Homo sapiens: one gene and its partners. The protein of the gene in region 1 purifies or fractionates together with the protein of each later gene. This does not show direct contact. Each region holds a gene or a part of one and is shown in the gene's direction. Other genes may lie near its edges.

What was found.
Region 2: the proteins of UPP1 (region 1) and ZNFX1 purify together in Homo sapiens (affinity purification with mass spectrometry; one large-scale study listed by BioGRID and IntAct). This does not show direct contact.
Region 3: the proteins of UPP1 (region 1) and ZNF195 purify together in Homo sapiens (affinity purification with mass spectrometry; one large-scale study listed by BioGRID and IntAct). This does not show direct contact.
Region 4: the proteins of UPP1 (region 1) and OBI1 purify together in Homo sapiens (affinity purification with mass spectrometry; one large-scale study listed by BioGRID and IntAct). This does not show direct contact.
Region 5: the proteins of UPP1 (region 1) and TBC1D4 purify together in Homo sapiens (affinity purification with mass spectrometry; one large-scale study listed by BioGRID and IntAct). This does not show direct contact.
Region 6: the proteins of UPP1 (region 1) and KCMF1 purify together in Homo sapiens (affinity purification with mass spectrometry; one large-scale study listed by BioGRID and IntAct). This does not show direct contact.
Region 7: the proteins of UPP1 (region 1) and SLC31A1 purify together in Homo sapiens (co-immunoprecipitation; one large-scale study listed by IntAct). This does not show direct contact.

The regions. Positions count from the first base shown.
Region 1 is NC_000007.14:48,095,765-48,099,264, forward strand, and holds part of UPP1 (uridine phosphorylase 1), read left to right. Parts: intron 1-3,500. UniProt on the Homo sapiens protein: Catalyzes the reversible phosphorylytic cleavage of uridine to uracil and ribose-1-phosphate which can then be utilized as carbon and energy sources or in the rescue of pyrimidine bases for nucleotide synthesis.
Region 2 is NC_000020.11:49,264,558-49,268,057, reverse strand, and holds part of ZNFX1 (NFX1-type zinc finger-containing protein 1), read left to right. Parts: intron 1-1,791; coding exon 1,792-1,923; intron 1,924-3,193; coding exon 3,194-3,342; intron 3,343-3,500.
Region 3 is NC_000011.10:3,369,147-3,372,646, reverse strand, and holds part of ZNF195 (zinc finger protein 195), read left to right. Parts: intron 1-943; coding exon 944-1,070; intron 1,071-1,576; coding exon 1,577-1,672; intron 1,673-3,500. UniProt on the Homo sapiens protein: May be involved in transcriptional regulation.
Region 4 is NC_000013.11:78,642,156-78,645,655, reverse strand, and holds part of OBI1 (ORC ubiquitin ligase 1), read left to right. Parts: intron 1-658; coding exon 659-794; intron 795-2,103; exon of another isoform or gene 2,104-2,630; intron 2,631-3,442; coding exon 3,443-3,500. UniProt on the Homo sapiens protein: E3 ubiquitin ligase essential for DNA replication origin activation during S phase.
Region 5 is NC_000013.11:75,363,670-75,367,169, reverse strand, and holds part of TBC1D4 (TBC1 domain family member 4), read left to right. Parts: intron 1-3,500.
Region 6 is NC_000002.12:85,047,661-85,051,160, forward strand, and holds part of KCMF1 (E3 ubiquitin-protein ligase KCMF1), read left to right. Parts: intron 1-1,705; coding exon 1,706-1,988; intron 1,989-3,500. UniProt on the Homo sapiens protein: E3 ubiquitin-protein ligase which accepts ubiquitin from an E2 ubiquitin-conjugating enzyme and then transfers it to targeted substrates, promoting their degradation by the proteasome.
Region 7 is NC_000009.12:113,252,544-113,256,043, forward strand, and holds part of SLC31A1 (high affinity copper uptake protein 1), read left to right. Parts: intron 1-3,500.

The DNA.
Region 1 (3,500 bases):
GGCCTCCCAGGTAGCTGGGATTACAGGTGCAAGCCAGCACACTTGGCTAATTTTGTATTTTTAGTAGAGATGGGGTTTCACCATGTTGGCCAGGCTGGTCTCAAACTCCTGACCTCAAGTGATCCACCCGCCTCAGTCTCCCAAAGTGCTGGGATTACGGGCGTGAGCCACTGTGGCCTGCCTCAGTGATTATTTTTTAATTGAACTAATAGTATTCCTGGTATTTTCAGTCATTGACAGCCAAAAATGCCTTGTCCCCAGTTTCTGGAGCTCCCCTCCTTCCTCCTCCTGCCATGGCTTGAGGTTGAGGCCTAGTAGGAGGCTGGTGGGGGTGGAGGGGAGTGGTAGAAATGAAGGCTGGAGAAAACAGGGCCGGCACACCAAGTGCCAAGCAACTCAGTGAGGGTTTCCTCCCCTTCCCTCTCTTCAGTAATTATTTTACCCTCCCTTGTTTTATCCTCAGCTATCTGCTAATCATGTTCCACTTGCTGAAAGGCAGTCAGGTGTAGAGCTCAGGAGTACAGCCTCTTAGGAAGGATGTGACCTTGGACTTTGAATGGGGTTACTGATGGTACTTAGTTTATACTGAGAGTATTAAATGAATTGATATGTGCTAGCTATTAATAACTTCATTTCTACCCCAAGTCGAAAGCCTTCCATGAGTGGAACTGGATCTTACTCATCTTTATGTTCAGTACACCCAGCACAGGATGCTTGGCTGTTGCGAGATGCAGCCAGCATTTTCTGGAGCCCTCCCACTTCCCCTTCCCCAGTACCTCAGGCCCCTGTGTCTCACCCATCTCATTTTCTTCTTGTCTCCACATGTGCTGGTCCTAAGCTATTTGGGCAAGTTTATATAAAGGTTGATACTGCTTTCTCTTCCCTGCTGATAAACTCCTGGAATCAGAAGCCAGTTTTCATTGCTTTCTTTTTTTTCCTTTTTGTCTTTTATTGAGACAGGGTTTCGCCCTTTTACCTAGGCTGGAGTGCCGAGGTGTGATCTCAGCTCACTGCAACCTCTGCCTCCTGGGCTCAAGTGATCCTCTCACTTCAGCCTCCTGAGTAGCTGGGACTACAGGCATGCACCACCACACCCAGCTAATTTTTGTATTTTTCACAGAGACAGGGTTTCACTGTGTTGTCCAAGCTGATCTCAAACTCCTGGGCTCAAGTGATCTGCCCGCCTCAGCCTCCCAAATTGCTGGGATTACAGGCATGAGCCACCGCGCCCAGACAGTTTTCATTTCATTTCATATATTTCTTTTACATGGTAGATGCTCAATGAATATTTGCTAGATGAATAAAGTGGTAGAATAAAGCAGAATAAAGTCACTTGAAATTATGTGTAGACTAGAGAAATATTTTTTTCCAGGTAGTATGTCTCTGACTTGTTATTTTAAAATCCTTCAAAAAATAAATTGGGGCATCTACTGGTTCATTATGGTACATGTTAAATTTACTTTTTAAATTTTACTTTATTTTTTATTTTTAGACAGTCTTACTCTGTTACCTAGGCTGGAGTGCAGTGGTGTGATCAGGGCTCACTGCAGCCTCAACCTCCTGGGCTCAGGTGATCCTCCCACATCAGCCTCCCAGGGAGGTGGGACTATAGGTGCATGCCACCATGCCTGGCTAATTTTTACATTTTCTGTAGAGTCAGGGTTTCACCATGTTGCCCTGGCTAGTCTCGAATTCCTGGGCTCAAGTGATCCACCTGCGTTGGCCTCCTAAAGTACTGGGATTACAGGAGTGAGCCACTGTACCCGGCCAAATTTTCATGTTTTAAAATAATTGCCTGTCTTCACGGTTACACCCTACTTCCTTCTTCTTCATTTCTCAGAATCAAGGAGAAAAGACAAGTATTTTATTTTGAAATATGTGACAAAGTTGTCTTAATCACATCCTGTTTTGTTATTTTGAAGCATGACTCTTAGCCCTTCTATGTTGTACTCTGTGTATTTCTAACATCCTGAAGGAGGAGAATGGAAATGTTACTTACATGAAAAATAGTTGTCACTAAAGGATCCTAAAATACTGTGGGGTGTGCAGATCGTCAGAATTTCAGATTGGCCTAGAGATCAAAAAGGTTTTCTGAGAAAAGTTCAAGGATGGTCCTTACCACACGTGATTCTGGATTTGGTCGCTTGAAAAATGGCCTTGCCCCACATCCCAGAGTAGAATGAACCCTGATTCTGGAGATCCCCCCAATAGCTTGTCAGGAAGAGGTGGGCTTAGGGGCAGGCGGGTGTGGCTCTGTGCTTCAGGCAGGCTGCTGTGCCTTCCTGAGCAGGGTTTTCAGCAGATTCACTAGTGCAGTCAGCAGAGTCCCTGCCTGCCCATACAGGAGACAGTCACCTAGCCCCCTGTCCCCTTATACAAAGATCTCCCTGTCTCTGTGTATAACCCTTTGTACTTATGTTTTCTATATCAGCCTTTCTGAAATGTTCAGGTGTGAGCTCACCTGGGCCCCACTCTAGGGGAATTGATGGGAAGGAACATTTGACAGTCATGAAAGGAGGAAGCAGTCAGGTATAGGCCATCTGTGTGTTTGGAGCCTGGGTGTCTGCTGTTGATGAGTGCCAGATAGAAATAGGGATTTGATAAAATGATAGATAAAATAGGATGGGACCATCTCAACCTTGTTTTTCTTGTCTGTGGTGTGTTACGTGGGATTCAGAGATATATAAGACGTGGTCATGGCCTCCAGAAATTTTTGTTCTGGAGGTAAAGTTATTACATTAATTATGTATACCAGTGTTAAAATATAGATAAGGTGTAACAAGCATCGTGTGGGGAGAGAATGGACAATGTCTGTGAGGGGGGTGCATCCCTTATTTAACAGTTATTTCCAAATCCGTGGCAGCTGAGACCTTGCCTCTCTTGTGTCTTTTTCTTTTCTCATGAGTTAGAATGAGGAGGAGACATGACCACGGGGTTCAGGGCAGAAAGTCAGACTCAGAAGGAAGAAAAAGAAGTCCCCAATTGCTCTGACATCAGCATCCCATGTCTGCCTCTGTTTCCTGTAAGGGAGCCCACCCATCTCTAGGACTCAGAAGGCATACATTGTTGAAGGAGCTACGTTTGAGGCTGGCTCTAAGGGACTTCGACAGGCTTGAGGGACTCATCTAGACCTGGGGCATTTGTTTTGTAAGGAAGGTTTTATTGGAACACAGACACACTCACTCATTTGTGTGCTATCTGTAGTTGCTTTCACATGTCTACGGTGGACTTGAGAAGTAGCAGAAATCATGCAGCCTGCAAAACCACATGTATTTATTATCTGGCCTTTTATGAAGAAAAGTTTGCTGATGCTTGCTCTAGACCAGCATGTGCCACGAGCACATTTTCTAGCAGATAAACAGATGTCTTATCTTGTCACTCCTATTGGATATCGTGCTGGAGAAGTGGTAGCTAGTGTAACAAAAACAAAAACAAATTGAAGGTATGCAGATTGGAAAGGTTATCTCTGGGAGGTAGGATTAGAGGTTGTTTTTCCTTCT
Region 2 (3,500 bases), on another chromosome or scaffold:
TAAAAAATATAAAAAAATTAGCCGGGCATGGTGGCAGGCGCCTGTAGTCCCAGCTACTCGGGAGGCTGAGGCAGGAGAATGGCGTGAACCCAGGAGGCGGAGCTTGCAGTGAGCTGAGATCGCTCCACTGCACTCTAGCCTGGGCAACAGAGCAAGACTCCACCTCAAAAAAAAAAACAAAACTGTTATACGGATGAAGAAAGCTAAGGCAAAGAAGGGTTAAATAACCTCTTAAGAGGTGGGAAGTATGTACTGAAGCTCACACAAATGTTAAGTGACAAGTTTAGGAATTGAATTCAGGCAGTCTAGCTGTAGAATCCTGGCTCCTATCTGCCACATTGTACTTGTCGTGGAACTATACCTTCCCATACCTTTCTCCCCAGGTGCCACTCTCTAATTCTACTCTGGGGTCATAACTATTATTAGAAGTGGGAATTTACATTAACAGTTAAAATAGCTACTGCTAAATTACTCTCCGAAAGGAAGTACCAAAAGAAAACAAAACCCCAAACAGGAAGAAGTCTTTAAAAAACACCAATGAAGTAATGGCAACTCATGATTTAAAAAAAAAAAAAAAAAACTTTATGTAACAAAGCTGGACGTCTTGACGAGTACCTGTAGTACCAAGTACTTGGGAGGCTGAGATGGGAGGATCCCTTGAAAACAGGTGTTCAGGCTGCAGTACACATAGCCCCTGCACTCCAGTCTGGACAACATAGGGCCTTAAAAAAGAAGGAAGAAATTGTTACTTATCCTGCTGTAGTGAAATCTTTGATTATCTTATATCACTCCCTCCCTCAACTTTGAGATTTTTGAGGACAGTGTCTACCTTACCAGCCTGACACAATGTAAGAATTTAGCAGGCCAGGCATGGTGGCTCACGCCTGTAATCCCAGCACTTTGGGAGGCCAAGGCGGACAGATCACAAGGGTCAAGAGATCAAGACCATCCTGCCCAACATGGTGAAACCCCATCTATACTAAAAATACAAAAATTAGCTGGGCATGGTGGCATGCGCCTGTGGTCCCAGCTACTTGGGAGGCTGAGGCAGGAGAATCACTTGAACCCGGGAGGCAGAGGTTGCGGTGAGCCAAGATCACACCATTGCATTCCAGCCTGGGCAACAAGAGCGAAACTCCATCTCAAACAAAAAGAGAGAATTTAGCAGTTTTTAGCCTAATTAATTAATTAATGGCCATTTACTAATGAGCCTATAACTCTTATTCCAATGTTGATTTCTACAAGTTTTCCCCTCCCATCACAAAAGCAAATCTACCATGTATATAAAAAGTATTTCTAATTTGCCACAAGATTGGAAACAATATATACAGCATCAATAGAAAACTGGCTAAAAAATACCTTAACAGCTGTAAAAAGGAAAGGGGGGGGTGGGGGGGATGGGATTCTCCTATGTATTGATAGAGAATGACCTTCAAGATACATTAAGTGAAAAAAATCAAGATGTAGAATGGTAAAAATTGTCTGTTACTATTCATATTTTAAGGAGAAAAGGGGAAGTCTAGAAAAAGAATACACATTTGTATTGTTTGTATATGCGTGGATATACTGTCTCTGTAAAGTTACAAAAGAAACTGGTAACATTGGTTGCTTCCACCCAGAGAACTGGGTGACAGAGTGCAAGAGGGACTTTTCACAATATACAATGTACGCTTCTTAGATTTTAAACTATCTTAATGTATTATATTAAATTTAAAAAAAGATTTTGCTCTGAGTAATTACTTTATTTAGAAAATGTCTAAATTGTTAAATTCCTTTTTCCTTATTTTCTAGGCAAAACCTATGTGGGTCTAAAAATTGTTCAGGCCCTCCTAACCAACGAGTCTGTTTGGCAAATTAGCCTCCAGAAGTTCCCCATCTTGGTTGTGTGTTATACTAATCATGCTTTGGACCAGTTTCTGGAAGGTAATACTTATAGGCAAATTTGTTCTCTATCAAGATGTTGATGATTGAACCATCAGCAACTTCAGTAGCTTTCTATTGCTCTTCAAACAAAGTCAACAGTCCTTATCATTACTTACATGGCCGTTTGTGATCTGTCCCAGCTGGACTGTGAACCACAGCTCCTACTTCTTAACCTTGTTCTCCCTAACTCCAGCAACACTGGTTATCTTCAGTTCCTTGAAAGCCTCTACGTCCTCCATTGGCCCATGCCATCCTCTGGCCTGGAATAGTTTTTTCCCTCTCCATCTTGAGCTTATTCAACCTGGCCCTACTCAACCTGGCCCTACTCATTCTTCTGGTCCCACTTTAAATCTCTCTTCTCAGGTGGACTTTTTCTATAGCCCCAAAGTGAAGTCTCTTTTGCATTTTTTATTTTTTTATAATCTATTTTATGTATCGCTACCCTAGATGAGGATTGGTCCTTTTCTTGCTGTATTCACATATCCTGGCACATATTAGGCACTCAAAAAATACTAAATAACATTAATGGATGAATAAATATATGCTTTTCCTTTATTTTTATTCTTCTATACCTCCCTTTCACCTAGATAAATCTTTATTCTTAGAGTCTGAGTTTAAATATTAGATTCTTAAAAATAGATCCCTACCCCACCCAGACTAGGTAATGTCCCCTGCTACCAGTACTCACTACATTTATTGCTGCCGTATTAATTATTTAATGAGTAACTTCCTGCCAGAGACAAAGAAATGATAACAAATCAGAAACTGGGCCTATGTTTCTACTGCTATATCTTCAGAACTTGGCACATGCCTAAAACATATGAGCAATCAGTAAATCTGCAGAGTGAAAAATATGTAACATATCCTGGGTGCTTGCTTTGTGCTGGGCCCTAGCTAGGAGCTTTAAAGATTTTCTTTCATTTATCCAGACTGTAGCCCTATATGGGAGATATTGCCATCTCTAAATCACAGACAGAGAAACTGAGACTCAAGTCACTTGCCCCAGGTTACACAGCAATAAGTGGTAGAGCTAAGAGTTGGATCCCTAGTTGTCTGATTCCAGAACCTGTACTCTTTAAGTGCTACACTTTACTGCTCTGCAGGTCACATCTTCTCGGGGACCTTCTCACTCATTAATGGGGTAAATTTCCTTTAAGCACAAGTTTATTCTCTAAGGGACCAGACTAGATCCCAAATACACACAGCTCTCACCTGAGAGAACCTAGCATAAGCTCCTCTCAACCCTGCCATGCTCCACTTTGTTCCACAGGCATCTACAATTGTCAGAAGACCAGCATTGTGCGGGTGGGTGGAAGGAGCAACAGTGAAATCCTGAAGCAGTTCACCCTAAGGGAGCTGAGGAACAAGCGGGAATTCCGCCGCAACCTCCCCATGCACCTCCGAAGGGCCTACATGAGTGTAAGTCCCAGCTCTGAAATATCTGGGGTAGTTCAAGAGGGACCTAAACAAGATAGCAGTGGCTTTCTGGGTAGGCAGCCCAGGGTAGATTTGGAGGCTCCTCAAAGCTCTGGAGGACCCAGGTTCCTTTCAGCATTCTATTCTGCCAATCCCTTGGT
Region 3 (3,500 bases), on another chromosome or scaffold:
ATTTATTTGTCAGAACCTGGGAGATATTTGTCAGGACCTGGGAAATATTTGTCAGAACCTGGGAGATATTTGTCAGAACCTGGGAGATATTTATTTGTCTCTTGAACTTTGCATAACACTAAGGTTTCGGTATGATTTGATTCAGATTATAATTGACCTTTTGGCCAATATCACACCAGTAATATGTCCTTCTCTGTGCATTGGCACGTGATAAAAATCTGTCCTATTACAGTTGATATTAGTTTTATTCAGTTGTTTAAAGAGCTCCCTGACAGATTTTCCATTGTGGAGTTTATTTTTTTCTCTTTTAAGTACCTTGAGGAGATTTACTAATTAATGTGCATAAATAATCACATTTAATCTGAAAGGTTTTGCTTCTTAGATTCTTTTTGCATATGCCTTGCTTTAGAAGATGAAGAATCTCATCTCTCTTTATGGTTTAGAAAAACTGGGATAAACCCAAGCTTGCCACTTACAGGATTTTTGACAAAATATTGTCCTTGGGCCCAAAGGACTGGCATCACTGGTGAGCGCGTTAGAAATTCGGAAACTCAGCCTTGACCTCCGATTTCCTGAAGCAAAATCTGCACACTAGTTTATTGGACACATGAAAATTGGAGAGGCAGCTTCTAACTCACCATGACTTTTCTGCCTGCGAAATATACACAGCTTATTCATGTGACGTAAATGTAGCACTCAAAAATGGACATGCCTTTGTTGATGCCCTTAATGTTATACTTGTTATCAACCAGAAAAGTATTGTATATACACTGCTTATGTGGCTCTCAGGCAATTCTCTTTCCTCAGAGTTAGAGAGTATTCTTCTGCTAAGAATTACCTTATTGTATAATTTCAGTCACTTGTGTAAGTCAGAACCAGTTCTCTTCACTCGCTCATTTCACCTCGAATCAAGTATTTGTTATTGTTGTTGTTTCTTCTTCAGACTCTGTTGACGTTCAGGGATGTGGCCATAGAATTCTCCCTGGAGGAGTGGAAATGCCTGGACCTCGCTCAGCAGAATTTGTACAGGGATGTGATGTTGGAGAACTACAGAAACTTGTTCTCCGTTGGTGAGGATAACTTCAATACGTAGTTCCTCCTATGCCCTAAAGAGTTCCTTTCGTTCCTCTGCGGAATGTTTTTTGGGAGTTTCTGCGTTGCATGAATGAGTTTCAGATCCCTGCTTTTAAGAAAAACATGGGGAATAGTTGATGTAAAAAAAAAAAAAATCTTCAAAATGTGGTTCATCTTGACATAAACCTTCCTTTTTTTTCAGCTGATCTGTATCTTTCACTCTAGTGACAATTCCAGAAATTCAGTGGCATGAAATATTGTTGCCCACAACTTAAAGTCAAATTTCCACCACCAATTTTTTATGTCAGCAGTACTGAGTGGTGAAACTAAGAACCCACAGATTTAAAATACTTACTGAATATTCTAAAGGTGATGTCAGGAAGCATAATTTTGGGATTAATTTTCTAGAATCTTATATAATGTTCACTCTACTAAGCACAGTACAAGGTTGATAATTGGAGAATTTCAGCAAGAGTAATGTCACTTTTTTCTAATAAAACAGGTCTCACTGTCTGTAAGCCAGGCCTGATCACCTGCCTGGAGCAACGAAAAGAGCCCTGGAATGTGAAGAGACAGGAGGCAGCAGACGGACATCCAGGTGGGTGGGAATGAACGAAGCAGGTAACCCAGGTGAGAGGTCCAGAGGTCGAGGAGGAAGCCAGACCTTAAAATGTGGTTTGAGAAGCTCTGCCCTAGTGGAGATGGTTTCTGAGAGCCTGGGTGTCTTTCTCTTGCTGTACCCTAGGAGCGTCTTCTGTCTCATTCTCTCAAATTTTGTATAGACTCTGCTTCCTGTTTAGTGATCTTCCTTTATAAAGGTTACAGTAAAAATCAGAGTCCTCCTCCTGACGAGTAAGGGCCTGTGTGGTCTCATGGCGTGCTCCGCCACTGCTTTTGGGAACATGCCTGTACCTGCCTGTTTTTGAGGAACTCTGTTAAATGTTTTTTGATTTCCTTTGCATCATGTCTGAAGTGTGCGAGAGGCGTGGTGATGGTGATTGGTTCAGAAATCCCAGAAGTCCCGTAAACAGATGTTGTATGCTTTCTGCTTTATGATTTCGTATCCTACAGAGGTTTCAAATGGGAGTCTACAGAAATGTATACTCAGCAGTTTTCTCCGAACACTAGGCATCTGCCCAAATATGAGATAATCTAATGTTATTTTACTTCAACATTTTATTTTATTTTTTTTAGTATGAGCTGAGGTTGGTCATTTAAACTTTATATTCCCTAACTCCCAACTGTAATAGTTATAATATTATCATTTTATAATTTCTTCTTTTTTAGTATGAGGCTTATCAGGACTCTGTCATTCATATGTATGTATGTGTGCATATGTATATATGTGTGTATATATGTGTGTATATATGTGTGTGTATATATCATATATGTGTGTATATATAATATATCAACATATCCTTTTGAAATGATAGGATTTCATTCTTTTTTATGCTGGAGTAATATTCTGTTGTCTATTTAAATCATATTTTCTTTATCCATTCATGTATATATACACACACATATATACAGTGTGTCTATGTGGGCATATGTGTAACAGATTATTTTAGAAATAAAAATTGTGTATATATTGTGTACAATGTAATAATTTGATATGTGTATACGTTGTGAAATAATTAGTGCAATCACTTCAAGGAACAAATCTATCACTTCACGTAATTACCTTTTCTTGTAGTGAGAACAGTTAATGTCTACCGTTGGCAAACTTTAAGCATACAAAAGATTATTAATAGTATTCGTGAAGCTACTCATTAGATTCCCCAAACTTACTCATCTTACAACTGAAAGTTTGTACCTTTTGAACAACAGCTCATTTTCCCCAACTCCAGGCCCTGGCAACTGCCATTGTCCTCTGCTCCTGTGAGTTCAGCCACGACAGATTCCACGTCTGAGGGGGAACGTGCAGTCTCTGTCTTTGGGGCCTGGCTGAGTTTATTTAGCAGGATGTCCTTCAGGGTCATCCACGTGGTTGAATGACAGGATTTCATTCCTTTTTTATGGCTGAGTAATATTCTATTGTCTATTTATATCACATTTTCTTTATCCATTCAGCATCCGCAAACGTTTAGCTTGTCTTTATATCTTGACAATTGTGAATAATGCTGCAGTGAACATGAGGGAGCAGATAATTCTTCAAGATGCTGCTTTTATTCCCTTCAGTTATTATATACACAGAAGTGTGATTGCTGCGTTGCAGGGTAGGTTTATCTTTTTCTAACTTTTAAATAACGCCCCCCCACCCTGGTTTTCATAATGACTCTACCAGTTGAGAACTCTGAGCGTTCAGAATTGTTTTTTCTTTACATCCTTATCAACATTGTTAGTAGATTGGCGCAAAAGTAAGAGTATTTCTTACTATTTAGAAGGCAAAAACCACAATTACTTTTGCACAGCCCTAATATGTTACT
Region 4 (3,500 bases), on another chromosome or scaffold:
ATAAATGTAAGGTATTATTATTTGTGCTTGTTTAAATGGAGCCTGGAGTCAAAGATTTGTGTATTTGGTGTATCTCAGTAATTCTGTCTGCATTGTTTGCTGTTTAGATTATAAACTACTTGAGAGTGAAGCTCATGCCTTTTGGGTTGTTTTAGCTTTCATTACTGTTTGGTTTTGGGGAATTTCTAGTAAAGTATCAATACAATATTTAATAGTTGCTGTTATTCTGTAACAGTGGAATGAATTGAGAAAAGGATTCGGGCATCAGATGGATGATTGTGCTAAATGATATTTTCAAAAACCTAATCCTGCTGTTCTATAATGCTAAAATAGAAGAGTTTGAGCAAAATTGTCCCAGCCTTAGTGGAACAAAAAGCATTTTCTTTTTGGCATGAATTCTGTGGTTTAGGTACAAAATAAAGCATTTTATATGTCAAAAGCTTCAGTCTCCATGATCCAGTATCTCATCTAGTATCTCTGTTAAACATGTGTAAAAAGAAAAGTGACCAACAGAAGCAGTGTTTTTAAAAGCGCTAGATATCCCTTCTTAAACTCCTACTCTGCTATAATCTAGAGAAGCAGTTTGCTGTAAACTAAACCATTTGATCTTCTAATTATGACCGTTGTCCTGTACTAAAAGTGATTTCTTTTTTCAAAGGTACGTCAGCCTGTCATATGCATCAACAACCATGTATTTTGTTCGATTTGTATTGATTTGTGGTTGAAGAATAATAGCCAGTGTCCAGCTTGCAGAGTCCCCATCACTCCTGAAAATCCTTGCAAAGAAATTATAGGTAAGGGCCTGTTTTATATATGCATAGGAATAGGTTTGAAACAATCTCCAAATAATTTATATTTCGAGGAAGACTGAAATAGGCTATTTTCAGTGATGCTATTTGGCCAACATAATACTGAGTGGTTGAGTAATTTGTGTAATGTATATGTGGAGCAACTGGGGCACAAGGCACTGAGAGGTGCTAAGAGGAATAACCCTGAGAGCCTCACGGAACTTACATTTTCATAGCAACTGAACCAAAAGAAAAGCAGCAAGTGCTAAGGGCCCCAAAAAAGCCCAGAGAGTTCAGGCAAGAAACTTCAGCTAAGAACACCGAGAAGGGCTTCATAAAGTAGGTGGCCTTTAAGCTGGACATTTAAATTTAAGGATGGATAACATTTCAACGGTGAAAATTAAGGAGGGCATTTCCTGCAGGGAGAATAGCATGAACTAAAAAGTTTAGATACAGGAAAACCCAGAGCATGTTTTTAGAAATGATCAGTAGTCTACTTTGGGTCCGACTACTGAGATAAGACAAAAGGTAAATTGAGACTTTAGTGCAGAGAACCTTGAATGACAGCTAAATCAGGGACTTGCTCTAGGACTAAGAAGAAGGGTGAATTGGGCATGATGGTTTTGAGCAAGGGAGTGGTATGATCCAAAATGTGCTTTACAAATATTACTTGTGGTAATACATAGGTTGGACTATAGGAGTAGACAGGATGTGAGTAGGTCTGGTAGGAGGCTTTTGCCTAGGTGATAGAAAATGTAAGTTTGGATTAAGGGTGAAAACAAATTCTATGTCACATTAATATTGGTGGGGTGGGGGAGGAGTAAAGCTTGAACTAGAGGATCCTTGAAAAGGAGAACTTCTAAAGAGCCTTTTTAGAGTTTGGTTTTTATTCTACTCATATAAGTTATTTATTTTAGGTTGCAAAAATTAAAATGATTTCTACTTGTTTTTGCTATAGGAAAAATTGAAAGTGAATCTACAATTAGCCAAGTATAGAAAACATTTTTCAGAAAACTTAAGAAGTCATTGTAATAGTCCCAAGTTAGGGAAAATGGACTTAAATAAGATTTTTTTTTTTTGAGACAGAGTTTCGCTCTTGTTACCCAGGCTGGAGTGCAGTGGCGCGTTCTCGGCTCACCGCAACCTCTGCCTCCTGGGTTCAAGCGATTCTCCTCCCTCAGCCTCCTAAGTAGCTGGGATTATATGCATGCATCACCACGCCCGGCTAATTTTGTATTTTTATTAGAGACGGGGTTTCTCCATGTTGGTCAGGCTGGTCTCGAACTCCCGACCTCAGGTGATCTGCCCGCCTTGGCCTCCCAAAGTGCTGGGAATTACAGGCGTGAGCCACCGTGCCCAGCCAAGATTTTTACAAAGGAAATAGAAAGGAATATATATGCTACAGAGCAAAAGAAGAACTAGTAGGACTTAGGAAATAAGAGATCTGAAGGCGCAATCAGAGTTGGCTCTTGGTACCTGGGTGAAGTCTGGTAGAGGACTGGTTCTCTGCTGTGTTGCATGCTACGGGGTTAACCTCTATCTGTTTTTTTTTACCTGCTGAATTTCACCAAGGAGTCAAGTCTTTTCTTGCAGAATATGAGCTTTGATGATTTGAATATTTTCCCCCAGCTTTTCTTCTCATCCCATATCCTACCTTTATTCATTCATACCTAAGTGATATTTCATAAATTCTCTCAAGGAAAATAGTTCATCCATTTTTGCATTTGGATAGAACATCCTGAAAAAGAACACCTGTAAAATACCTTTGCTATTATTATAATGCTAAAAAATACAAAGAAGGTAACCAGAGCATCAGTGAAGAGCTCTCAGGAAGAATTCATTGTGAGTGCATTTGTAACAAGTCATGACATAGAGTTAATGCCATGACTTACAGTCCATTGTAACTAGCCTGTTAGAATCCGTGAAAAGACACATTAATCTATATACATAGGTATATAGCAGTAATACTTTTTTTTTTTTTGAGACGGAGTCTCGCTTTGTCGCCCAGGCTGGAGTGCAGTGGCGCAATCTCGGCTCACTGCAAGCTCCGCCTCCCGGGTTCATGCCATTCTCCTGCCTTAGCCTCCTGAGTAGCTGGGACTACAGGCGCCAGCCACCACGCCCGGCTAATTTTGTTTGTTTGCATTTTTAGTAGAGACAGGGTTTCACTGTAGCCAGGATGGTCTCTATCTCCTGGCCTCGTGATCCGCCCGCCTCGGCCTCCCAAAGTGCTGGGATTACAGGCGTGAGCCACTGCACCCAGCCAGTAATACATTTTTATATAATCTCTTGGTTAAATGTAAATGTAATAATTGGTTTTATTATTTAAATATAGTCTAGTTTTCAGAATTTGAAGTAGTCCAAATGTGATAATTACAGCCCTTTCCTCCACTGAGTTTGCTGTGATAAGATATGTAGATATGTAAATACAATATGATGTGTTACTGAAGGTATTTCTTATGGTGTTATTTGATATATTTTTTTTTCCTCAAGATTAGGGTAGAGAAAAGGCCTAGATGTAAGCCCCAAGTGTGTATGTAAGGGGAAGGGTAGATGTGAAGCTGGGAAGCTATATAAAACAATATGAAAAAGGATCATTTTCATTCTTCCCGAATCAGAATGAAAAATTAGGATTTTTTTTTTTTTCCCTACAGGAGGAACAAGTGAAAGTGAACCTATGCTAAGCCATACGGTCAGGAAGCATCTTCGGAA
Region 5 (3,500 bases), on another chromosome or scaffold:
TTAGTCCCAAACAATCTGTGTATTTCCTGATTGCAGAGTCAGGAAATACTTAACTTTTGAAGCAATAATGGTTACTCCTGGGAAGTTTTATAATTGGCTGCATAGTGATAACGTGGACTTTAATAAATACAATGAAAATACCGCCAGCTTATTTAGAAAGAGAGAACTTAGAGCTAATACTGAGGACTACACCAGTTTGGCAAAATCATTGCTCTTCGTGACCACCTCCAGTTTCCAGCTGGCTTCCTGATCAAAGGTATCTTTCCTTAGTGCTTTTTCACTCTCCAGATTTTCTCCTGTGTTTGTTCAGGTCTTTGAACATCAGTGTTTGGTAGTTGTAGAATTTGTTTTATTTTGAAATCAGGTAAAATGTAGTTTATAAAATGTTAATGGGTTTTTTGAAGTATGTTAAGTAACTATGATAACCAATTAATGAGAAAGAACAGCATGACATCAAGGAATCTAGAAGCAATATTTTTTTTTTTTTGTCTAGAGTGAGGAATTGCTTTAATGTCTGAGTCTTGGTACTTGATTCTAAATTGTTTTAGTGAGGTCACTGAAGGTGTAACAACAAAATACTAGCTAAAGGTGGCACTGTGCTTTTTCTAAATATAATGAGACCCTTATTTCTGTTGAATTGATTCCTGTGTGTTAATGGAAATGGATCATTTTAACAACTTGCACACTACTTCAGGTTTAATCATAAAGGTGATTTTTCCCTCTCTTGATTGTACATTATCCTGCCTTTATATTGGCATTAATCCAAAAATTAACTCACAGAATGTGGATCTCGATGAGACCTTATCAACCATCTATCAAGTTCCCCCATTCACTTTGCTCTTGAGGAAGTTATCTGGCAGAGGTGCAACAACTATTCCCAGAGGTCTTGAGCAAAATATTGGGGATAGAATATAAACCTGTCAGTCCCTAGTTTGGTTGAGCCTCTTTCAGTATCATTGTTTTGTGTTAATAGATTAAATGCTGCCACTGAGTAGAAATCTTGCCTTAAATTGGTGTGTGTAAATCGTCATTAGGCTCTGTGGGTTGTAGGCAGATTCTGAGCAGCGGAATTATTTGTAGCTACAATATGTAGCTAGGGTGTGTAGCTTGAGGTGCTCTATAACATTTAGAGTCATTCTGGAAACATACCGTCACTTCCTAGTTTGGGTGAATGGTGAGCAGAGTGAGAAGCCACTGCTTTCTATTTTTGGGTGTGACAGATCTCTTGAGTCACCAACGGGAATTTACTAAACTGTCTCAGTCCTGAAGAATTTATATCAGAGTTCTAGGTAGTTTTTCACTCCTATATATATGACTCTGTTTGCTGTCAGCATTCATTCAAGTTCTTCTGAGCCCAGACCATTTTCCTAGTGGCCACAGGGAGGAATTCTAGTAAGCAACAAAATCCCCCCAACTCAGTCTTTCACTTAAGAGCTTATGGTACGATGGTACAGGAGAAAGAGATATTGAAAAGATACAACACATATAAGAAGGATTCAAATTCGTTCAACAATATTTGTAAATGTATGTATAAATATATGTCAGTTAACACTATGCTACAGGAGAATCCTATGATTCCAAAATATTGTATGTATGTACAAGTACTTGATAGAAATTTTATTTCTCTTGCATTGTTTCTGATGAATCCCTTAAGTAAATGCTTCAATACAAGATTTTCATGATTCTCTGATCACTCATTTCCCCGCTATGGATATTTTACTGTGCTTATATGAGCAGTGTGCCCCTTCTGGTGTGGCCTAAGTGAGTAGTCAGGGGCTGTATAATGCTAGTGTTTATACTCTGTGTTTCACATGAGGATAAGCAAAAAAAAAAAAAACAGAGCTGTTGTTAGATTAGTTTTGCAGAGTCTCTGCAACCCATGTCATTCAAGTTGTGGTTAGTCATAACCTGAGAAAAGGTAGTAAAGGTAACTAGAACCAGTTTTGTGTTGTAATATTAGCATCTTAAATTATTAAAGATTAAATTATGTACTCAGTTTAGAATTCAAGATGATAAACTTTGCTTATATAAATTGGATCACTTACAGAATTACATTTAGGTGTTGAGTTTTTACCTGTAGTCACAGGGAAGGATCCTGGGAGACTACAGAAATTCAGCCACAAATCAGTTTTTCATGTAAAAACTCTTGATATGGCGGTAGAGAAATTCAAAAGACTTGACACAATTAAGGTTGAATTGACTTTATGTGCAATCTCAATTGTAGAATGGAACTCTGAGGTTGTATGTAAATCATTTAAATATTTGTAACAAGATAAAATATCTGCAGTAAAATCAGTGCTACAGGCTATATTTCTGATTCCGTACTCTGTAGAGACACTTTTGGAGGCATACTTGGGTTAAAAATTAGATGAAAAGTATTTAGTGGAAATCAGACAAAAAGATTTTGGGTTAAAAATCAGATTAAAAATATTTAGTAATCAGATGAAAAGTAGAGAGAAAGAAGAGATCATTCTCCTAGGGCTTTGCCCACTAGAATCATTTTATTTTTTGCAGGTTTGCACGGTTGAGTGTCAGCTAGCTCACTCTCCATAGCTTTGGCCCTTGCCAGGTAAGGTAAATCACATACTAAGGCAGTAAGAAAATGATGAAGGGTTGAGGTTGCTAGTCACATGTTAGCACAGATACCTGACTTTGTCCCTGAGACATGGCAAGTGTTCAGGGTGAGTCACTGAAGCTATAGCATGTGGATTTTATCCTTTCATAGGAAATACTTGGTCTAGCAAGCGGAAATTCTTGTTATTTGTAAACTATGAATGTTCTAGCAGTATATCCCAAATAATTACAACAGCCCCTCCTTATCCACAGTTTCAGTCACCTGTGGTCATCTGTGGTCCGAAAATATTAAATGGATGTGGCAATAAACTGTTAACATCTCTGAACTCAGAGACCTTGTGGGAGGAATGTGCCTTGTATGTTGGAGAAATAGCAAGGAGGCCATTGTGGCTGGAGCTGAGTAGAAGGGAATTTAGTAGGAGATAAACTCTAGGAACCAATTGCCAATCAGGAAATCTTTGAATCCACCTACGATCTGGAACTGCACCGCCCCCACCATGCACACTCCCCACCCTGCCCCTTTGAGTTCTCCCACCTTTGTGGATCGAACCAATGTACATCTTACATATACTGATTGATGTCTCATGTCTCCCTAACATGTAGAAAACCAAGCTGTAGCCCAACCACCTTGGGCACATGTTCTCAGAACCTCCTGAGGCTGTGTCATGGTCATGCCCTTAACCTTGGCAAAATAAACTTTTAAACTGATTGAGACCTGTCTCAGATACTTTTTGGTTTATAGAATGTACCACATTTTATTTATCTCTTCACTTGCTGATGGACGTTTGGATTGTTCTCAGTTTTAGAGTTGTGAACCAGAAAATCTGAGACAGGTCTCAGTTAATTTAGAAAGTGTATTTTGCCAAGGTTGAGGATGCGCACCTGTGACACAGCCCCAGGAAGTCCTGATGACATGTCCCCAGGGT
Region 6 (3,500 bases), on another chromosome or scaffold:
CCTAGGAAGTTGGTAGCAGAACACAGGGTCAAAATAAAATACAAGAAATCACTGTAGCCTGATAATCTGCAAGACACACCAAGCAGACAAGTGGTAAGACAGTGGGAAGTGTGCACACATTTAAAGCAACAATTCTGAAATGTGTCCATGTGGTGAAGTGTGCACCTACCTGGAAGCCATGAGCACCCTGCAGAACACCTGAAACATTGATAAGTGTAAATCTGTAATAGAAACTGAGAACATCAGAGCTAAATGACAACTTAGGAACACAAAGGAGGAGACAGCAGACACTGGGGGAGGGTAGCAAGAGAGAGAGGAGCAGAAAGATAACTGTTGGGTACTGGGCTTAATTGGGTCCTGGGTGATGTAATAATATGTATGACAAACCCTCGTGGCAGGTGTTTAACTGTGTAACGGACCTTCACATGTACCCCCAAACCTAAAATAAAAATTTAAAAAAGAAAAACAACCTAAGAACAATTTTATACCTATCATGTTATTTAAAAGTTAGATATACCATATAAAATTTTAATTCCAAATGTGCTTTGGACATTTGTGTGTGCAACAACAAAAACAAGCCTAATAAACTGAGTTTGGGGGATTTAAAAAATATTTCTTCATCCAAAGGGAATATTTACCTGCTATTTTGGTGGCAGGCACTAAAAATTAAAGTAGTTTCTGGGAGCAAAATTCAAAATTGAGAAATTTTCTTCATTTGATTTTTTTTCTGTCAGTGAAAATTAGTTTATTTTAGTGATAGACTGTATATTCCATGAAAGAGTGGTATAAGAGTGCTATAAAAAGCCTGGGATAAAGCAACAGTGAGCAAGAAAACAAACTGTTAATGAGTTTTAATGATAAAGAGTTTTTGCTGGCCTGAAAGTGTCTGCAAGGCAGTCATCGATTCCCTATAAGCGAGGTGGACCCTCCACTTGGAAGAAGGCATTTCACTGTACCTTACTTAGATGAGGATGCGGGGACAAAAGTTTACACCTCTCTTAATGAGTACAGCCTTATGGACACAAGACAGTCTGGATCATAACAGGCCACTAAGTAGGCTGTACAGTCAGATGCAGCAGGTTCTCAGGAGCCAGTCAGCCTTGCTGAGCACTGGTAGTGGTATCTACTGCAGTGGTACTCTGAAACAGCAGTACCAGAAGGTACTAGAGGGAGAAAGCAGAGGCAGAGAGTGTGCAAGGGCCACCATCAGAAATGATCCAGGCCTCTTGGACTGAATCCTAATAATTCATTCAGTCATTCAGTAAATGTTTGAATTCCTGCTATATCAGGCCCTGTTCTGATAGCTGGGAATATAGTCAACAGTAGACCTCATCCCTGCTTCCATGGAACACATATTGAGAGAGCTTATATTATAATTGGGCCCACAGATAAACCACTTCATTAAATACTAAGAGAAAGCTTCACTAAATTAGTCTATTATGCAAATAATTTTAAAGACAATTTAAGTTTTACTTCAAACATAATTCAGTCTGGGTTAATATTCGTATGCATTTGCATTCTCTGTCCACAGTAACTCCTGCCTTCAGGAGGCATTCTAGAAGGATTCAGCTCTTAAACTGTGTGCTGTGGTGGTTACCTACCTGTTCACAATGCTTTTGATGTTGTTCCAGTAAAAGAGTGATCTGTAGCGTTTTGTTTTCCTCAGTATTAAGCAGACATTAATTGTCTTCATTTCCATTGGCAGAGCTTTTATCTCAGTTATCAGGAGTGAGACGTTCTGCAGGAGGACAGCTTAATTCCTCTGGCCCTTCCGCTTCTCAGTTACAACAACTGCAGATGCAGCTGCAGCTAGAACGGCAGCATGCCCAGGCAGCACGGCAACAACTGGAGACCGCACGCAACGCAACCCGGCGTACTAACACAAGCAGTGTCACCACTACAATCACACAATCCACAGCAACAACCAACATAGCTAATACAGAAAGCAGTCAGCAGACTCTACAGAATTCCCAGTTTCTTTTAACAAGGTAGCTCATTTGTTAATAGAATTTTGTTTGGGAAGTAATATTTTATTGCCACTACAGTCTGGAATTATCTTTTCTCTTTTGTGCATTATATTTCTTTAAAATTTTGTGTTTGATTAAAACTCACAGATCTCTGATTAAAACGCATATTCAGTATTTCCCCAAGAATGTGAAACATAGTAATTATTTTAGATAAATTAAGAATACTGGGCCAGACCCAGTGGCTCACACCTGTAATCCCAGCACCTCACACCTGTAATCCCAGCACTTTGGGAGGCCAAGGCAAGCAGATCGCCAGAGCCCAGGAGTTCCAAACCACCCTGGGTAACATGATGAAATCTTATCTCTACAAAAATGAGCCAGGTGTGATGGTGCGCACCTGTAGTCCCCGCTACTCAGGAGGCTGAGGTGGGAGGATCGCTTGAGCCCTGGAGACAGAGGTTGCAGTAGCCAAGATTGCACCATGCACTCCAGCCTGGGTGACAAGAGTGAGACCCTGTCTCTAAAATAAAATAACTGGTCTTGTTCTCAAGGTATATATCATCATATAATATGAATTGTTTTGCCATAGTACCCATAAAACTTAAACACTATATCATTATATATATATGGTTCATATTAGGTGTATTTATCATAATTAACGTTGCTTGTTATTGCCAGTTTTAATCTGCTTTGAAATATTAAAAGTATAAGAAGGATTTCATAATACAGTGGCAGTTTTCTCCTGTGAATTTCTAAAAAAGCTAGATTTAAATTTTTATGGTTGGCACACAAAAGTAACTTAAAAAAATGGCTTCCTATGGTATAAATAATATTTAGTAAAACAGTAAACTACTCTACTAGATGGAGTTCTTGTTTGCTTCTGAAACTGTTAGCAACTGCATGTATTTGTCTGCCAAAACTTCACAGGCATTTTATGTGACTTTTAGGAATATAAAGAATTCTTAAAAGAGCAATGATGAGTGGAGACTTAGCCTCAACAGATAATGAACCTGGACTAATTGGGCTTTTAAGGGAGCAGAGAGGAACATAAAGGAAGAACTGTAAAATGAAGAATAAAGTTTGTGTAATACATGATTATTTCCAAAATGCAGTGTGTATGACAATTCATTGGGATGTTAGAGGAAAATATTATAATTTCTACTTATGTTTCTTTTATCTCATACTCTGTTAATACAGTGGTGCATGTGTATAGTTATAAATAACATATTGTGGGTGCAGAATAAAAAATGCTTGAAAATCCCTGGGCTAGAGCCCCAGCTTTGCCAATTACAAGTTTTGGACCTCAGGCAAGTCATTTCACTCCTCCAAACCTCAATTTTATCATCAGTATCCCAGAAGTTTTGCCTTTAGAGAGATAATTATTTTGAGGATTAAATGGAATACTGGTATGTGTATGGTCTGGCTCACTATCTGGCCTATAGTAAAGGTCCAATTAATGGTACTCGTTATCAACATTTGTTATGAAACCAAGAAAAACATTTTAAATGGGTAATTTACCTTTGAATTATCTCT
Region 7 (3,500 bases), on another chromosome or scaffold:
CTCCCAAAGTGCTGGGATTACAGGGTGAGCCACCGCACCCAGCCTAGTCTTGCTTTTTTAACAGTCCTCTACATGTTATCTTATATCTCAAAATGAAAATTATGACTGTTCAGTTTCCCTTTCTAGCTTTTAGCCTTAAAGCTCCTTGAGGAAAGACTCCATGTGATGTTCATTTCTTTATTTCCTTTGGTCTTAAGAAGGCACTCTTGCAAATATTCATTCCCTCCTCCTGACCAGGATTCATATTGATAATATGGAATGAAGTAAATCCTTTGTGGTTTTCTTATGCTATAATCATTTTTCAGACTCTCATTGGAAGAGAACAGTATTTGTGTCTTCTGCCTCTAGCTCTTTATGAGGATGTGTCAGTAGTCTTCCTGGCTAGCGAAAGTCTTTTCTTTTCTTTTTTTCTTTTTTTTTTTTTTTTTGAGACGGAGTCTTGCTCTGTAGCCCAAGCTGGAGTGCAGTGGCGCGGTCTCGCTTTACTGCAAGCTCCGCCTCCCGGGTTCACGCCATTCTCCTACCTCAGCCTCCAGAGTAGCTGGGACTACAGGCACCCGCCACCATGCCCGGCTAATTTTTTTGTGTTTTTAGTAGAGACGGGGTTTCACCCATGTTAGCCAGGATGGTCTTGATCTCCTAACCTCGTGATCCGCCTGCCTCGGCCTCCCAAAGTGCTCGGATTACAAGCGTGAGCCACCGCGCCTGGCCAAGTCTTTTCATTCTTATTGCATTTGTTTGGTTCAATATCATAATTTATGATCACTCAGATGCCAGTGATCTCTCCATCCTACCATAATTACCTCTTTATCTGAAAACAGCTGCCCACCTGCCATTTGCCCCATCACTGACACTTTGAGCATGGTCTTTATTTTATTGTGTATTGTATTTTTTAGTGTTTACTCTAAAAACATTGTAGACAAAGACTCTGTTTTATATCTTTTTATACCTCTGATGTAATCTCTTTATGGTAATGGTATCAATAATACCAGATTGTCGAGCTCTGTAATTTTTTTTTTTTTTTTTTTTGAAATGGAGTCTTGCTCTGCTGACCAGGCTGGAGTGCAGTGGCATGATCTCTGCTCACCACAACCTCCGCCTCCCAGGTTTGAGCAATTCTCTGCCTCAGCCTCCCGAGTAGCTGGGATTACAGGCGCGTGCCACCAAGCCCAGCTAATTTTTGTATTTTTAGTAAAGACGGGGTTTCACTGTTGAGCTCTATAATTATAAAATAATGTAGTGTCTGGCATGAAAGTGGATCTTTGATTATGCCTACCTGATGCTTTGCCTTATCCTTCACTAGAAATAAGAACCTATTTCTTAAGCCAGCTGTCATAGAACTATGGGGTAGGAGTTAACAAGGAGAAAATAAATAGATGGCTCCCTGAATCTATATAAATTTCCTACCCACAGTCTTTTTTTTTTTTTTTTTTTGAGATAGTCTCCTGTCACCTAGGCTGGAGTGCGGTAGTCCAACCTTGACTCACTGAAACCTCCACCTCCCAGGTTCAAGTGATTCTCATGCCTCAGCCACCCGAGTAACTGGGATTACAGGTGCATGCCACCACACCTGGCTAATTTTTTTGTTTTAGTAGAGATGGGGTTTCATCATGTTGGCCAGGCTGGTCTCGAACTCCTGGCCTCAAGTGATCTGCCTGCCTCAGCCTCCCAAAGTGCTGGGATAACAGGCATGAGCCACCGCGCCTGGCCAATTTATTCTTTACCTCTTGGTAATTGTGTCTTATTTCTCAGCTTATTTCCTTCACAGCATGAAATTATATTTATTGTTTCTCTCCCTATCAGGAACCTTGTCTTATTCATTGTTGAATTATTAGCACCTAGCTCAGAGTTTGGTATATAATAGGAGCTTGATAAATATTGAGTGAATGAATAATGAAAAGCATACTTGGTTTCATGAACATGAATACCTACTTGGAATTTTTAAAACCACTTTTTCTTCCACAGACTGGACTTGAGGGACACATAAAGAGAATCCACCAACACCTCCCCCTCCACACACACCAGCTTCCCATTCTCCCACTCCAACTCTAGCTATAGGAGTTATTGTTCCTGGGCCGGGCACGGTAGCTCAAGCCTATAATCCCAGTACTTTGGGAGGCCGAGTTGGACAGATCACTTGAGCTCAGGAGTTTGAGACCAGCATGGCCAACATGGTGAAACCCCATCTCTACTAAAAATTTAAAAATTAGCCAGGTGTGGTAGCATGCACCTGTAATCCCAGCTACTCGGCAAGCTGAGGCATGAGAGTCACTTGAATCCAGGAGGCAGAGGTTGCAGTGAGCCGAGATCACACCACTGCACTCCAGCCTGGGCAACCATGCAAAACTCTGTCTCAAAAATAAATAAATAAAAGGAATTATTGCTCCTTGGTTTATGTCCCAGATGGACTTTTGCAGCAATACAGTGATGTGGTAGTAAAGATACAAGGCTGAATTTGCAGTTGTCTAGACTTAATTTAATATAGAGTATCCAATTTATACCTTGTTTTTCATGTTCTTCACTCTAATGTCCTGGTAGGATTGAAATTGTATCTGAAGTCTGAGCACACTGCGTGCCTAGGGCCATAGTAGACCTTTCTTCAAATTTAAATTAGCTGAAGGCTGGTTGTCCTGTATGTGAAAATGTAATCCAAATATCCTGATTAGGCACAGGCCATCCCAATTAGGTGAATTATCTGAAGTCCTTGCTTTTTATCTGCTGACATTTATGATTAGAAAGCCTTAAAGCAGTTAAATTTCATTAATGGCATTCATTTGTATCTTATTACAGATTGCCTGTTTCCTGCAACCCAAAGAAGCTGCTTTCCTTCTCCTTATCTAATATTTAAGTTTGAACATATATTAAGCATACCTATTAAAGGAACTATACTGGTGGGGCACAGTGGCTTACACCTGTAATCCCAACACTTTGGGAGGCCAAGGCAAGAGGATTGCTTGAGCTCAGGAGTTCGAGACCTGCCTGGGCAACACGAGACCTCATCTGTACGATAAAACAAAAAATTAGCTGAGCGTGGTAGTGGTGCAGGCCTGTGATTCCACCTACTCAGGAGGCTGAGGTTGAGGCTGTGGTGAGTTGCACTCCAGCCTGGGTGATGGAGCAAGACCCTGTCTCAAAAAAAAAGGAACAATTCTGCAGAATAAGGAAGGGTTAGGCATCTGTAGCCCTACGTGTAAACCCTTTCTGCTACAGTCTCCAAAAGTGATCCCTATTAGCACGAGTTCTTTCTCTCTCCATCTGTAGATTATGAAAAATAATTCTGAGTAAAGATGCTAGGAGAGCATTCATTTATTAGATGCATTCCATATAGACAAAGTATTTACCAAGAAACAAGCCCAGGAGCAGGGAACCACCAGGTTGCCTGGTGAACCAGCCTAGATCAGAAATGGAGCAGGTCAAAACTCCTGTACTGATCAGTAGTGGGATCATGCCTGTGAATAGCCATTGCATTCCAGCCTGGGCAACATAGCAAGATTCCATCT